4 linked regions of the Homo sapiens genome follow. The protein of the gene in region 1 purifies or fractionates together with the protein of each later gene. This does not show direct contact. Each region holds a gene or a part of one and is shown in the gene's direction. Other genes may lie near its edges.

Evidence for each region.
Region 2: the proteins of NAE1 (region 1) and PCYT2 fractionate together in Homo sapiens (co-fractionation; one large-scale study listed by BioGRID). This does not show direct contact.
Region 3: the proteins of NAE1 (region 1) and MSN fractionate together in Homo sapiens (co-fractionation; one large-scale study listed by BioGRID). This does not show direct contact.
Region 4: the proteins of NAE1 (region 1) and PPP1R2 fractionate together in Homo sapiens (co-fractionation; one large-scale study listed by BioGRID). This does not show direct contact.

The regions. Positions count from the first base shown.
Region 1 is NC_000016.10:66,813,977-66,817,476, reverse strand, and holds part of NAE1 (NEDD8-activating enzyme E1 regulatory subunit), read left to right. Parts: coding exon 1-52; intron 53-448; coding exon 449-512; intron 513-804; coding exon 805-896; intron 897-3,500. UniProt on the Homo sapiens protein: Regulatory subunit of the dimeric UBA3-NAE1 E1 enzyme. E1 activates NEDD8 by first adenylating its C-terminal glycine residue with ATP, thereafter linking this residue to the side chain of the catalytic cysteine, yielding a NEDD8-UBA3 thioester and free AMP.
Region 2 is NC_000017.11:81,904,900-81,908,399, reverse strand, and holds part of PCYT2 (ethanolamine-phosphate cytidylyltransferase), read left to right. Parts: intron 1-542; coding exon 543-627; intron 628-801; coding exon 802-846; intron 847-1,142; coding exon of another isoform or gene 1,143-1,196; intron 1,197-1,501; coding exon 1,502-1,640; intron 1,641-1,853; coding exon 1,854-1,936; intron 1,937-2,222; coding exon 2,223-2,300; intron 2,301-2,664; coding exon 2,665-2,730; intron 2,731-2,952; coding exon 2,953-3,018; intron 3,019-3,245; coding exon 3,246-3,334; intron 3,335-3,455; coding exon 3,456-3,500. UniProt on the Homo sapiens protein: Ethanolamine-phosphate cytidylyltransferase that catalyzes the second step in the synthesis of phosphatidylethanolamine (PE) from ethanolamine via the CDP-ethanolamine pathway.
Region 3 is NC_000023.11:65,716,154-65,719,653, forward strand, and holds part of MSN (moesin), read left to right. Parts: intron 1-664; coding exon 665-748; intron 749-3,500. UniProt on the Homo sapiens protein: Ezrin-radixin-moesin (ERM) family protein that connects the actin cytoskeleton to the plasma membrane and thereby regulates the structure and function of specific domains of the cell cortex.
Region 4 is NC_000003.12:195,516,627-195,519,325, reverse strand, and holds part of PPP1R2 (protein phosphatase inhibitor 2), read left to right. Parts: intron 1-140; coding exon 141-308; intron 309-2,383; coding exon 2,384-2,430; 3' UTR 2,431-2,699. UniProt on the Homo sapiens protein: Inhibitor of protein-phosphatase 1.

The DNA.
Region 1 (3,500 bases):
TACTCCATGGATTGTGATCATAGCTAAATATTTAGCACAGTGGTATAGTGAAGTATGTCCTTTTTTAAAAAAAATTTCATATGCAACTGTATTTTCAGTTTCTTACAAAGGATTTCCTTGATGGGGAATGGGAGATTAATTTTTTTTCCTTATGGAGTTGTATGGTAGGGCAAATGGATGCTTTTAAATTTAAATCTAGCAGTTCCTCTTTTGATCCTGATAATTTTAATTAAAATGAAATTCAATAAATGTCATTATGAAACTGGCAGGGGGAATGAATGTAGATAAATGGTCACAGTGTCTGTTTTCTATCAAGTGAGCCTCTGATTTCACAGAGAAATATATTTGTTGATGAAATCTTATGTAGAGAATGGGGGACACTTTAGACTTTCAATTTCTGTATTTTGAATTTTAATAACTAGATTTTTAAAATTTTTAACCAATTTAGACAAATGGACGAATACCTAAAACGTATAAAGAAAAAGAGGACTTCAGAGATTTGATTAGACAAGGTAATATGGGATATGATTAAATACTGTATAAAGCTTGAAAAGCAAATTGCTAGAGGCAGGTACTTATTGGATTTCTGTTAACACCTTTGTCAGATGATAGCATCATGAGCTTTTATTTTCCTTCTGGAGAAGTTAAGAAGCCACGCCTTGTATAGTTTTAAGGACTAATGATAAGCCGTATTTCTTCTTAAGATTTAATATTCTGCAGGATCTGACAAGGTTATTTTTATAATGGGGGAACAGAAGAGTGAAAAGAAAAGGGCTGTTTGCTAACAATTTCCCATTACAATAGGAATTCTAAAAAATGAAAATGGGGCTCCAGAAGATGAAGAGAATTTTGAAGAAGCTATTAAAAATGTGAACACAGCACTAAATACAACTCAGGTAATGAAAGAGTTGCTGAGGGATTCACATGAACAAGATGTTTTCTAGAGTCCTTGGCTATTAAATGGTTGACTATAATGATTTAAGTTAATATTTTCTAAATGTATAGTTAGAAATAAATACAGGGCCGGGCATGCTGGCTCATCCCAGCACTTTGGGAGGCTGAGGCGGGTGGATCACCTGAGGTCAGGAGTTCGAGACCAGCCTGGCCAACATAGTGAAACCGCGTCTCTACTAAAAATACAAAAATTAGCTGGGCATGGTGAACATACCTGTAATCCCAGCTATTCGGGAGGCTGAGGCAGGAGAATCACTTGAACCCAGGAGGCAGAGGTTATAGTGAGCCAAGATTACACCACTGCACTCCAGCCTGGGCAACAGAGTAAGACTCCGCCTCAGATGCCTTTGGTTTTGTTATGGCTTAGTTGTTGAGGTCTGACCATTGAAGTTTTTGGGGAGCTTTGGAATAACACCTGGTAGTTTAAGTTAGAATTTTCTTGTAACTTAAAACAGCAAATATGCTGCCTTTCAAGTTAGGAAGGCACGTAAGATATTATTACCAACTTTTTAGAGACAACAAGGCAGTGTTGCTGAGTGATTAAAAGTGTGCTGGCTGGGGCCAGGCGCGGTGGCTCACACCTGTAATCCCAACACTTTTGGGAGGCCGAGGAGGGCAGATCACATGAAGTCAGGAGTCCAAGACGAGCCTGGCCAACATGGTGAAACCCCATCTCTATTAAAAATACAAAAAATTAGCTGGGCATGGTGGTGGGCACCTGTAATCCCAGCTGCTTGGGAGGCTGAGGCAGGAGAACCGCTTGAACCTGGGAGGTGGAGATTGCAGTGAGCTGAGATCTCATCAGTGTACTCCAGCCTGGGCAACAAGAGCGAGACTCTGTCTCAAAAAAAAAAAAAAAAGTGTTTGCTGGCCAGGTGTGGTGGCTCACACCTGTAATCCCAACACTTTGGGAGGCCAGGGCAGAAAGATTGCTTGAGCCCAGTTCAAGACCAGCCTGGACAACGTAGGGAGATCTTGTCTCTACAAAAAATTTAAAAATTAGATGGGTGTGGTGGCATGCACCTGTAGTCTCAGCTACTCTGGAGCCTAAGGTAGTGGGAGGATCGCTTGAGCCTGGGAGGTTGAGGCTGCAGTGAGCCATGATTGTGCCACTGCACTGCAGCCTGGGCAATGATATGAGACCCTGTGTCCAAAAAATAAATGTGCTTTGTGAATCACTTTTCTGGGGTGATGAACATTTTCTGTTTTAATTGGGGTTATGGTTAAAAATATGTATATATAGTTATCAAAATGCATTGAATTGGACATTTGAAATCTCTGTATTTCACTGAATATAAAACCACAGTTGAAAAGAAAAGATTCTAATAGTTGGGGGGCAGTAAGCTAAATAAACAGATAAAAATGCACCAGGTGCTGTGAACAAAATTACAGCAGAACAAAGGGTCAGAGAGCATGCTGGGGACAAGGGAATCCGGGGTTGAGAGACAATTGTACATAGGGAGCCAGGGAGACTTTCCAAAAGACATTTAAGCAGAAGCCTGAGTGAAGTGACACGCAGAGGTCTGGTGGAAGAGCTTTTCAGTTGGAGGGAGCACATGTGCAAAGGCCCAGAAGTGGGATGAAGCTTGACTTTTGTTCAAGCATCAGTAAGCAAGTCAGTGTGATTGGAGTGAAGTGTAAAAGGGGGAAAAGTGGTAGGAAGGATTTGAGTTTGGAGAGGCAGAAAGGGCCAGATCATAAAGGCCTTGCAGGCTATTTAAGCATTTCAGTCAGGGAAGTGGATTGAGCTGCTTTGTATTCTAAAAGACCATTCTGGCTTTCATGAGGAGAACACAATTGAGGGGACTGGGAGTGGAAGCAGAGAGAGCAGTTAGGAGGTCCCACTGAGACATTTCTTTTTTCCACCCATCAGTAGAATCCAAGCCTATGATTTGTGTGTGTGTGTGTGTGTATTTTTTTTTTTTTTTTTGAGACAGGGTCTCACATTGGTGCCCAGGGTAGAATGCAGTGACACAATCACTGCTCACTGCAGCCTTGACCTCCTGGGCTCAAGTGATCCCCCCACCTCAGCCTCCCAAGTAGCTGGGACCACAGGCACGTGCCACCACGCGCAGCTAATTTACTTTTATGTTTTCTATAGACGGGGTCTTCCTGTTTTGTTCAGGTTGGTCTCAAACTCCTGGGCTCAAATGACCCTCTCACCTTGGCCTCCTGAATGCTGGGATTATAGATATGAGCCATTGTGCTCAGCTTTATACTCTTGATTAACGTATGAAGATCTTGCTAGCAATAAAATTACTTTATGGTTTTAGTTTTTTTCAGAGTGGTTGTCTCAACGGTCACTAATTAGGGTGCAAGGGTTTCAGATTTTTGACAAGATGGAAAATCATGATATACTGCGAGTCTATAATCTGTTTTGTCTTCAGATGTAACTATATAAAATAATTTACTGGGGCCCCTTCTTTACCCCATTTATGGTATAAGAGAATAGGTATTAAATGGTAGCAACAGTGGGCCGGAGAGGTCTTTCTTCCATTCTTTCCCCATCAAATCTTCATATGGTACTGATTCTAAATAAAATTATA
Region 2 (3,500 bases), on another chromosome or scaffold:
GGCCTGGAGGCCCTTGCCATTTGGTGCTGCAGACCCATGGCCCCAGGGCTCCAAAGGCACAGCTTTGTGAGGTGGCAGCTGTTGAGCTCGGGGGACGTGGCTGGCACTGCTGGGGAGCTGGCACTATATCTGAATTACCAGACGTCAGGGACATGAGGCCAGTGGCTCCCGCATGAGATGCTGCAGCTGAGAATTCACTCAGCTGCAGATGCTCAGCGGGCAGGACGTGGGTGTGAGGGAGGCAGGAAGCAGAGCTGCTACCCCAGTGCCCATCCTCTCCCTGGCATTGCACACCTGGGCCCCAGCAAGGGTCCTTTTCTGTGCTCCTGCCACTCCCTTCAGTCAATAAAAGCGTGGAGGCCTTCCCCATGTTCCCAACCCAGGTTTTCTGTTATGGCCTTGCACAGGAAGGGGACCCTCAGTCTTTGGGGCAGCCGTGGGTTCTGCCACAGCAGGGCTGCTAGTGTCCCTAGTGGTGGTAGCAGGAGGCAGAGCCTTGCGAGTGTCCCAGGATGAGACCCCACTCCCACTGTGTCCCCCAGAGAATGCAAGCGCACGCAAGGGGTGTCCACCACAGACCTCGTGGGCCGCATGCTGCTGGTAACCAAAGCCCATCACAGCAGCCAGGTGAGTCGGCGGCGGAATCCCCGAGGCCCCTGGGTCGAGGTCTCCAGGGGAAAGGAGGGGCACCTCCCTGCCCTCTCAGGGTCCTCCTGCCCACTGCTCCCCATCCCCAGCCGGTTCTGGGGTGGCCACGCCGGGAGGGCAGGCCCCTCAGCCCTGCTCTGACCTTCTGTGCAGGAGATGTCCTCTGAGTACCGGGAGTATGCAGACAGTTTTGGCAAGGTGAGTGCGGCTGTGCAGGGAGAGCTGAGCACGCAGCTGCAGGGGGCTCCCCCGGCCACCTGTCCCAGCCATCCCTTGGGGAAAGGCCAGCCCAGAGCCTCACCCTCCTCCCTCTGTCCCTGGCACTGACCAGGCACTGACTGCCAGGTTTGGCTCACTGGTGGATGCTGGGAGGGAGGGCAGGCGGGTGGTGGCACCGGCTGGCCGGTCACGGCAGCCACTGCTTGGAGGAGCAAGGATTTGCCTGTGGACAGGTGGCCTCTAACCAAGTGGCCTGGCCCTCTCTCCCATTGTAGCCCCCTCACCCGATACCCGCCGGGGACATACTTTCCTCAGAAGGCTGCTCCCAGGTGACCAGACAGTGGTCTCAGGGTACCAGGTCCCTCCCAAGGGCTGTGTGCACCTGCCACAGGGCTCCTTGCCTCCTCCTGGTGGTCGCTTGCTGGGCTGAAGTGGTGTCTGCTGCGGTGCCTGCTGTGGTTGTGGGGTGGCGCCACAGTCCCACCTGCCACCTGGCCTGGCAGTGTGTCCCCTGCCCGAGATGACTGGCTGGAAATGGGATTGCTGGCAGGTGACAGCTGAGGGTTTGGTGACCTGGTGAGGGCAGCACCTGGGAGGCCTCCCCCGCCAACCTGCTCCCTCTCTTGGCTTGCAGTGCCCTGGTGGGCGGAACCCCTGGACCGGGGTATCCCAGTTCCTGCAGACATCTCAGAAGATCATCCAGTTTGCTTCTGGGAAGGAGCCCCAGCCAGGGGAGACAGTCATCTATGTGGCTGGTGCCTTCGACCTGTTCCGTATCCTCTGGGCCTCTGCTGCTCCCCTACATGTGCCACATGGGGTGGGACCCGGGGGCCTCACTTGACTCCTTGGGGCCCCCAGACTGGGCTGGCTGGTTTGCAGGGGAGCAGCTGTCAGCAGGGAGGATGGCGGGGAGGCCCTTGGGCATGAGCTGTCAGGGAGCTGCTCCCTGTCATCCCCATCCCGACTGCTTCTTAACCTGGGTGCAGACATCGGGCATGTGGACTTCCTGGAGAAGGTGCACAGGCTGGCAGAGAGGCCCTACATCATCGCGGGCTTACACTTTGACCAGGTCACTGCCTTCTTGCTCCCTGGGCCCCTGGGCAGCTGATGGGCCCTCGAGGGGCCCTAAGCGTTGCTGTTAGGTGCAGGTGGTCTCTGGGAAGGGGCCCCAGGTGAAGTCACAGGAGACCCTGGGGGGTGATCGTAGGCTTCTGGGGTCCAGGGCTGTCCTGTCTGGGGCATCCCCACAAGGGCGAGCAACCTCCCCGACTTCTTCCCATGAGGGACAGCCGGGAGGGGCACACCCTGTCCCCCCAAAAAGTCTCCGGGCTGAGCTAGCCGCACTCTGGCCGCAGGAGGTCAATCACTACAAGGGGAAGAACTACCCCATCATGAATCTGCATGAACGGACTCTGAGCGTGCTGGCCTGCCGGGTGAGTGGGGGCCAGGAGCCAGCCCAAGGATGGGGAGACATTCCCACAACATCCCCCCTACTAAGGGCCTCCCTGAGCCAGGGCAGGGGGGCTTGGGTCACTGGCAGAGCTGCACCCAGCACCCCGAGTTCTGTGGCACCTGCCCATACCTGTTTGTTGAGGCATGAGGAGGGGTGGTCAGGTCTCCAGATGCTGTTCCTTCTTGTCTCATGGAGGAGCCCCAGGGGTCCCCAGCCTGCCCAGCCCATCCCTGCTACTCACTGGCAGCCCCGCCCCATGTCTGAGCCGTCTCTCACCACCCTGTGGCCCTGGCTTACCAGTAGCAGGGACCGAGCAAGTCTTTCTGCCCCCACTGTCCCCACAGTACGTGTCAGAAGTGGTGATTGGAGCCCCGTACGCGGTCACAGCAGAGCTCCTAAGTCACTTCAAGGTGAGGCTCCGCATGGGCTCACCTCGTTCCCTCTGTTCACCTCTGTTCCTGCATGGGCTGGGAATGCAGGCTGGCTGTGGGCTCCTAGGCGGGGCCCAGGAGGTACCTGGGCTGAGGAAAGGGCAGGGTCAGCTCTCCCAACCCCCGGGGCCTGTGCTGGGCTGTGGGTGGCGACGGCCGCTGCCTCCCCGGGGAGGGCTCCTGACCCCACTCCTTCTCCAGGTGGACCTGGTGTGTCACGGCAAGACAGAAATTATCCCTGACAGGGATGGCTCCGACCCATACCAGGTGGGTCATGCTGGCCCTTGCTGGGCACAGGGGTTGCCATTGGCACCTCCCAGCCATTTAATGACTCACTGTGCCTGCCTGGGAAACGGGCATGGTGGCGCAGCTGCTCCGACTGCACCACTCCCATGGGACCCTGGGCGCTGGTCTCCCTCTGGGGCAGGGCATCAGATGGGTCTTGGGGAGGTCAGCAGGGACCTTCATCCCGCTCCTCCTCTCTGGACCCCCAGGAGCCCAAGAGAAGGGGCATCTTCCGTCAGATTGACAGTGGCAGCAACCTCACCACAGACCTCATCGTCCAGCGGATCATCACCAACAGGTGCAGTTGGGTGGGGGCACCTCGGAGCCGCCTCATGGGCGCTCTCCGCTAGACTTACCGTGCCCTCCCCCTCGGAGCCGCCTCATGGGCGCTCTCTGCTAGACTTACCCTGCCCTCTCAGGTTGGAGTATGAGGCGCGAAACCAGAAGAAGGAAGCCAAGGAGCT
Region 3 (3,500 bases), on another chromosome or scaffold:
GGTAGATCAGAGGTGAGAAGAGAACCCTGTGAGATGAAGCTGTCTAGTATAGATGGAAAGGCCTTCCTGGAAGAAGTACAGTTATCATTTGCCTGCTCTTAGTTGTAGGCTGATCTGCATTCTTTTTTAAAAATTTTTTTGAGACAAAGTCTCGCTCTGTTGCCCAGGTTGGAGTGCAGTGGTGTGATCTCGGCTCACTGCAACCTCTACCTTCTGGGTTCCAGTGATTCTCATACCCCAGCCTCCCAAGTAGCTTGAACTACAGGTGTGCACCACCATGCCCGGATAATTTTTGTATTTTTAGTAGAGATGGGGTTTTGCCATGTTACCCAGGCTGGTCTCGAACTCCTGGCCTCAAGCAATCCACCCACCTCGGCCTCCCAAAGTGCTGGGATTACAGGCATGAGGCATTGCACCCGGCCTTCATGCTTGTCTGTTCTTTGGTAAGTATTGCTCTGTGGCTGTGTTGTTTGTCTTCAATAAGCTGCTTGGGAGCAGGGGTTGTGTTTGGGTCAATATTCTCCCTTCATCCCCATCAGTATCTAAGTTGCCCAGGCTCTTAGCATCCTAACTCCTTCCTCTGTGGTTGAGCAGAGACACTTGTCTCAGGCTCTGTTGAACACAGAGCCAGATGACTAACCTGCTTCCTTTGATCTCATCCTAGATCAGTGTGCGTGTGACCACCATGGATGCAGAGCTGGAGTTTGCCATCCAGCCCAACACCACCGGGAAGCAGCTATTTGACCAGGTAAGGCGGAGACTCCTTAGCCTCCTCTCCTTCTCTGAATAGCTTCCACCACAATGCCAACAATCCATGACTTTTGCCTCTTGTCAAAGAATCTCTCTTCCTGTTCACTCCAAGATAGATCAAAATGAAGGCTGATTCCAGACTTAATATGAAAGGAGGCAAAGTTAAACTTTGGCAGCCTGCACCCTATGGTCCTGATTAATTTTATCTTTGGTCCTGAATAAGGGAGAAAAGAAAATGGTGTATATTCTATGCTAGATGCTTTAAAAATCTTAGCATATGGAGCCTTCCTTTTAACTCTGAAACATGTAAGTGATGTCTTCTCCATTTTAATGATGAGGCTCAGAAGTTAAATAACTTAATTGCACCCAAATGATATTTGGCTGGGATTTGCACTCCACATTGTTGCCACTGCACCACACTGCCTCTGTCCCATGTTTTTGCTTCCTAGTAGAAGGAAACTAACTTACTCTCCCTGAGGTAGTAAGCTCTATGCACATTTCTCTCAAAAGAATGTTGGGACTTAGGACAACATGGGAGTTGATGGATGCAGTAGGAGGCTGCTTCATCTCCTACAGGCATGCCATGAAGATAATTGCTTACTCGCCATAGTGAAGAGGTCATTCCCATCTCCAACCCAAGGGGTGTCCCTTCATTGTGAATCATTATTGTCAGAAAGGATGTACTGTATACTATAATAAACAGATGGCAGCTACAGACATTTTTAGCATTCAAGGGAATGTGCCGTCTGTGGCCAGACTTCTAGGAGCAAAAATGAGGCTCCCATTTCCAGAGGCTGGGACCTCACCAGACAGGCCATTATCCTATTTCTCCACCAGACTCCGATGAAGTGGAGGTCTGAGTTATTGTCCAGGATGTTAGGCTGCATATCACCCTGATGGATTCTCCAGGCCCTCTTGCTTCCCTTTCTTCCTTGCTCTCTGTGTCCTTCTACCATATGAGAACTTCCCCAGGGTTGGAGAGAGGAAGAAAAAAAGAAGGAGGTAGTGTTCAAATAAGCTAATTCTATTCCTGTGAATACTTCTGACTGGTGAGAGAAAAGACAAGAGTAGAATGGAGACAGGGGTAGGAGAGGGCTAGAAATTTGAGGACAGCTTGGGTACACCTTCTGAGTTCTTATTACATAGAGTGGGAAAATTATTGTCTGTGGCTAATACAGATGAGAGTTAACATTTATCCAGGACTCAGTGTATGCTAAGTATTATGATAAGCATTTGACTATCACAAAGCTCTGTGAGTGCATGAATTAGTATGGGCATGTTTTACAGATGAGGACACAAAATCCTCATTTTCCTAGTTAGACCCTGGGAAAATTATTGAACTCTCTGGGTTGGTATCTTCATCCCCTCCCCCCGAGAAATATCTAATACTTACCTCACAGGATTTTTGTGAGTGTGTTATGTTTTGTATCTTACCTGTTACTCAAAAATCTGATTATAGTGGCATATAAGGATGTCCAATCCAAAAAGATAAATTCGAAATAGGTGAGAAAGATAAGAAAACACAAATAGGAAAGAAAGTGTTAGCTGGAAGAAAGCATCCAGCATATGGTAGAGAAGTAATAAATGATAGCTCCCTTTCCAATACCATTGTGCTTCTTGTATTATTAATTGAGCTGGAGTTGACGTGATGTGGTGGCTCATGTCTGTAATCCTAACACTGAGATGGGAGGATTGCTTGAGCCCAGGGGCTCGAGACCAGCCTGGGTAACACAGCGAGACCCTGTCTCTACAAAAAATTTAAAAATTAGCATGGCATGGTGGTGCACACCTATAGTCCCAGCTACTCAGGAGATTGTGCCAGGAGGGTTGCTCAAGCCCAGGAGTTCAAGGTTACAGTGAGCTATGATCACGCCACTGTACTCCAGCCTAGGTGACAGAGCAAGACTCTGTCTCTAAAAAAAAAAAAAAAAAGTAAAGAAAAATAATCTAGAATTGGGAGAATTGGGAGATGGGCTTAATGATCCTCAGAATATCTAACTTCAGATTTAGGTGGAACTTACTTCTCTGGAGTTTGTTTTGTGTTTGTTTTACTTTGAATGGCAAAGTGTAATCATTGATACTTAATTGGTGAAAATACAAATTAGTCTGAGGAATATTTAAATACAAGTTTACTACAATTAAAGTGATGTGCTTACATTCACATAGCTCACAAGTGATTATGGTGCTAGTCTGGAATGACTAAATGCATTCTAATTATAATTGTGCTTTGCATTCTCTCTTCACATGGAGGTTATATTGGAGAACTTTTAAAGGGACAGCCTAGTGAAGTCAAAAGGGCCTGGATAGAAAGTCATGAATCTTGGGCTGTAGGGTTGGCTCTATCACTAATTCGCTGTGATACAAACGTTTCCCTTATTTGGGCCTCAGTTTCTCATCTGTACAATGCCTAACTTGTTTCTCAAATCTGGTTATCTCTCAGAAAATTTATCTCTGGCATTTATTTGTGCATTCCATCTCTCTTTCTCTCCCATTTCTGTTCCTAGTATTGGGATTTCAGACAATCCTTTTCTGTAAAAAGGAGAGAAATGCCTCACCTGAGTATGATCAGCTGCTGGCATATGTGAGGAGGTAGGGCTAGCTGGCAGGGGGATCATCTCTTCCTTGACAGGCTTTTTACTGTCTCTAAGACAAAAGGGAGGAAGTGTCCATAGAACACATAGGCTTTTGGGCCCTTTGCTTTAGACAGCAGTATCATTCTGGGTAGCAGCTATTAGAGAGGGAAGCGGTTA
Region 4 (2,699 bases), on another chromosome or scaffold:
TCTGCCATTGAACACAAAAGCAGCCTTAAGCATGACAAAAACAAATGAGCATCACTGTTTCAATAAAATTTTATTTATAAAACAGGCATGGGCCAATCCTTGAGCTCAAACTTCCTAAGTTTACATTTTGCATCTTATAGAAAAAAAGCGACAATTTGAAATGAAAAGGAAGCTTCACTACAATGAAGGACTCAATATCAAACTAGCCAGACAATTAATTTCAAAAGACCTACATGATGATGATGAAGATGAAGAAATGTTAGAGACTGCAGATGGAGAAAGCATGAATACGGAAGAATCAAATCAAGGTTAGATGTTTGGAAAATGTCACTGAGACTTTTGTAATGGTCTATGCCTAAGATAATGTACTTTATTTTGCTTTAAACTTGTGAAAAAACAGAAAATTTTGCTGAGATTCGCTTTATTATACCAAATGTTTCTAAAGTTTTAACCCGCATGGCCAATTTCAGAATAATAAAGTTTTTATACCTAGAGTTGATTTGATTTTAGACCATATGTTTTATTATATGGCTTTCTTATGGTTTACTTGCCTTTAGGCAAGGATGTTTGTCTTCATATTAAGCTATATTTTGTTTTGAATATTTTAGGTCATGTTGTATTTGTCATAACGATCTAAAATTTAAAATTTTTAAATGAAACTTTTTTTTTTTTTTTGAGACAGAGTCTCGCTCTGTCACCCAGGCTGGAGTGCAGTGGCGTGATCTCGGCTCACTGCAAGCTCCGCCTCCTGGGTTCCCGCCATTCTCCTGCCTCAGCCTCCCGAGTAGCTGGGATTACAGGCGCCTGCCACCACGCCTGGCTGATTTTTTGTATTTTTAGTAGAGATGGGGTTTCACCATGTTAGCCAGGATGGTCCCAATCTCCTGACCTTGTGATCCGCCCGCCTCGGCCTCCCAAAGTGCTGGGATTACAGGCATGAGCCACCGCGCCCAGCCTGAAACATGTTTTTAGTATGGAAGATTTGGTTTTACATCCCGTTAGATACAAAGTATGTCATATCTTTCCAATACGGATTCTTTTGACTGTTGGATTGACAAGTTATTTAACTGTTTTTGTTTTTATTTTTTTTTTAAGTCTTAGACACCCAGCCCCTGCAGCCTAGCAACTCCTGATCTGTCATAGGAAATAGGTTTTATTTATTTTTTATGAACTGTTACTCTGGTATTTAATGAAGTGAATCTTCTGCATCACTAATGGAGATTTTTTGTGCCCACCACCTACTCCTTGTACTTACAAACTTCATACTTTTCAGTGGAGGCGTAACTGATGTTATTTGTGGTGCCCAGAATGGTTAAGTCTTAGGAAATTAAATAATTATTGTATTACCATTTTGGTAAGCATAGTATTAAATATGAATAATTCTATGATACAGCCTGATGAGTTGCTGTCTCATAGTGTCAGGATTACAGTACTTTTTGTTATTCCGTAATATGCTTCAACCTTTTAGTCTATTTCATATAGCCTTTCATTTCCATTATATATCCCATAGTCTGTTTAACTTATATTTAACTTGAGCAAACTTCATCTTACATAGTAGCTGTGGCATGTTTTTATTATCCATTTTTATTTTTATTTTATTTTTTGTTATAGAGGCAGCGTTTTTTGTTTGTTTGTTTTAACGCCATTTCTTTTGAAAAATAACTATGGCATTTTGTCCGTCTCTGCTTATAAGATATTACATTTCACATATTTAGTACATAAATATATTTTTTGTTTAAGTTTAATGGAGGATTAAAATTTTGTATTAGGTCAGTGCCTGATTTTTCTTCACTGGAGATGAAGTACACCTTGCAAAGGAGTATATCCTGCTTAGCATTATAAAACCCACAAGAATAGGATAAGACTTAGGGAAATAAGTACCTTATTTACCCCCTACCCTTTTTGGGCCCTTAACATTTTACCAGCTTTTCAGATCTCTAAGTTCTATAGAACCCATTAGTTTTGGGACAGTGCCAGTCTCCTCCCTTCCCCCTTTCCTCCCCCATTCACACAATTCATTGGAGAAAATGACATGTTTGGACTCTTAGGTGATATTTTATAGCTTTCAGGTAATAAATATGTATCTTTTTATAGCTCTGGATATTGGAGTTGTCGTAAACTCTTACCTTTCCACCTGTGACTTACAGAAATGTTCAATCTGAAACCTGTTTGTTTTATCAGCAAGTAGACACTTCTGTTCTTTAGACTATTTAGGGGAGTGTATAGATTCTTCAATTTCAGTCTAAATCAGCCTACATGAAATATACCTTATTTGTTTTTAAAATTTTTATATTTGCTTGTCATGCATGCTAATAGAAGGGAACTTTAGCCAGGGTTGACAACATATAACAAATTATGTTGACTTTTTCTTTTATCTTTGCAGGATCTACTCCAAGTGACCAACAGCAAAACAAATTACGAAGTTCATAGACGAGATTTGTTCAACACTGCAATTGTTTGTTAGATGTAAACCCTGTGACTATAGTACGTTGCTTCTTGTTCTTCACAATTCATGACTTAAGTACCAAAATGCATACCAGTTATTATATATTGCCAAGAATTAAATGATAAACTTAGAGACTGATTAGACTGAAAATGCCTAATCGATATATATATTCTTGTGCCTAGTACTTTACCACAAATACAGTGTAATATCATCAGTCCAAAACTGCATTACTTTTGTAAAAACACTGGTTAAT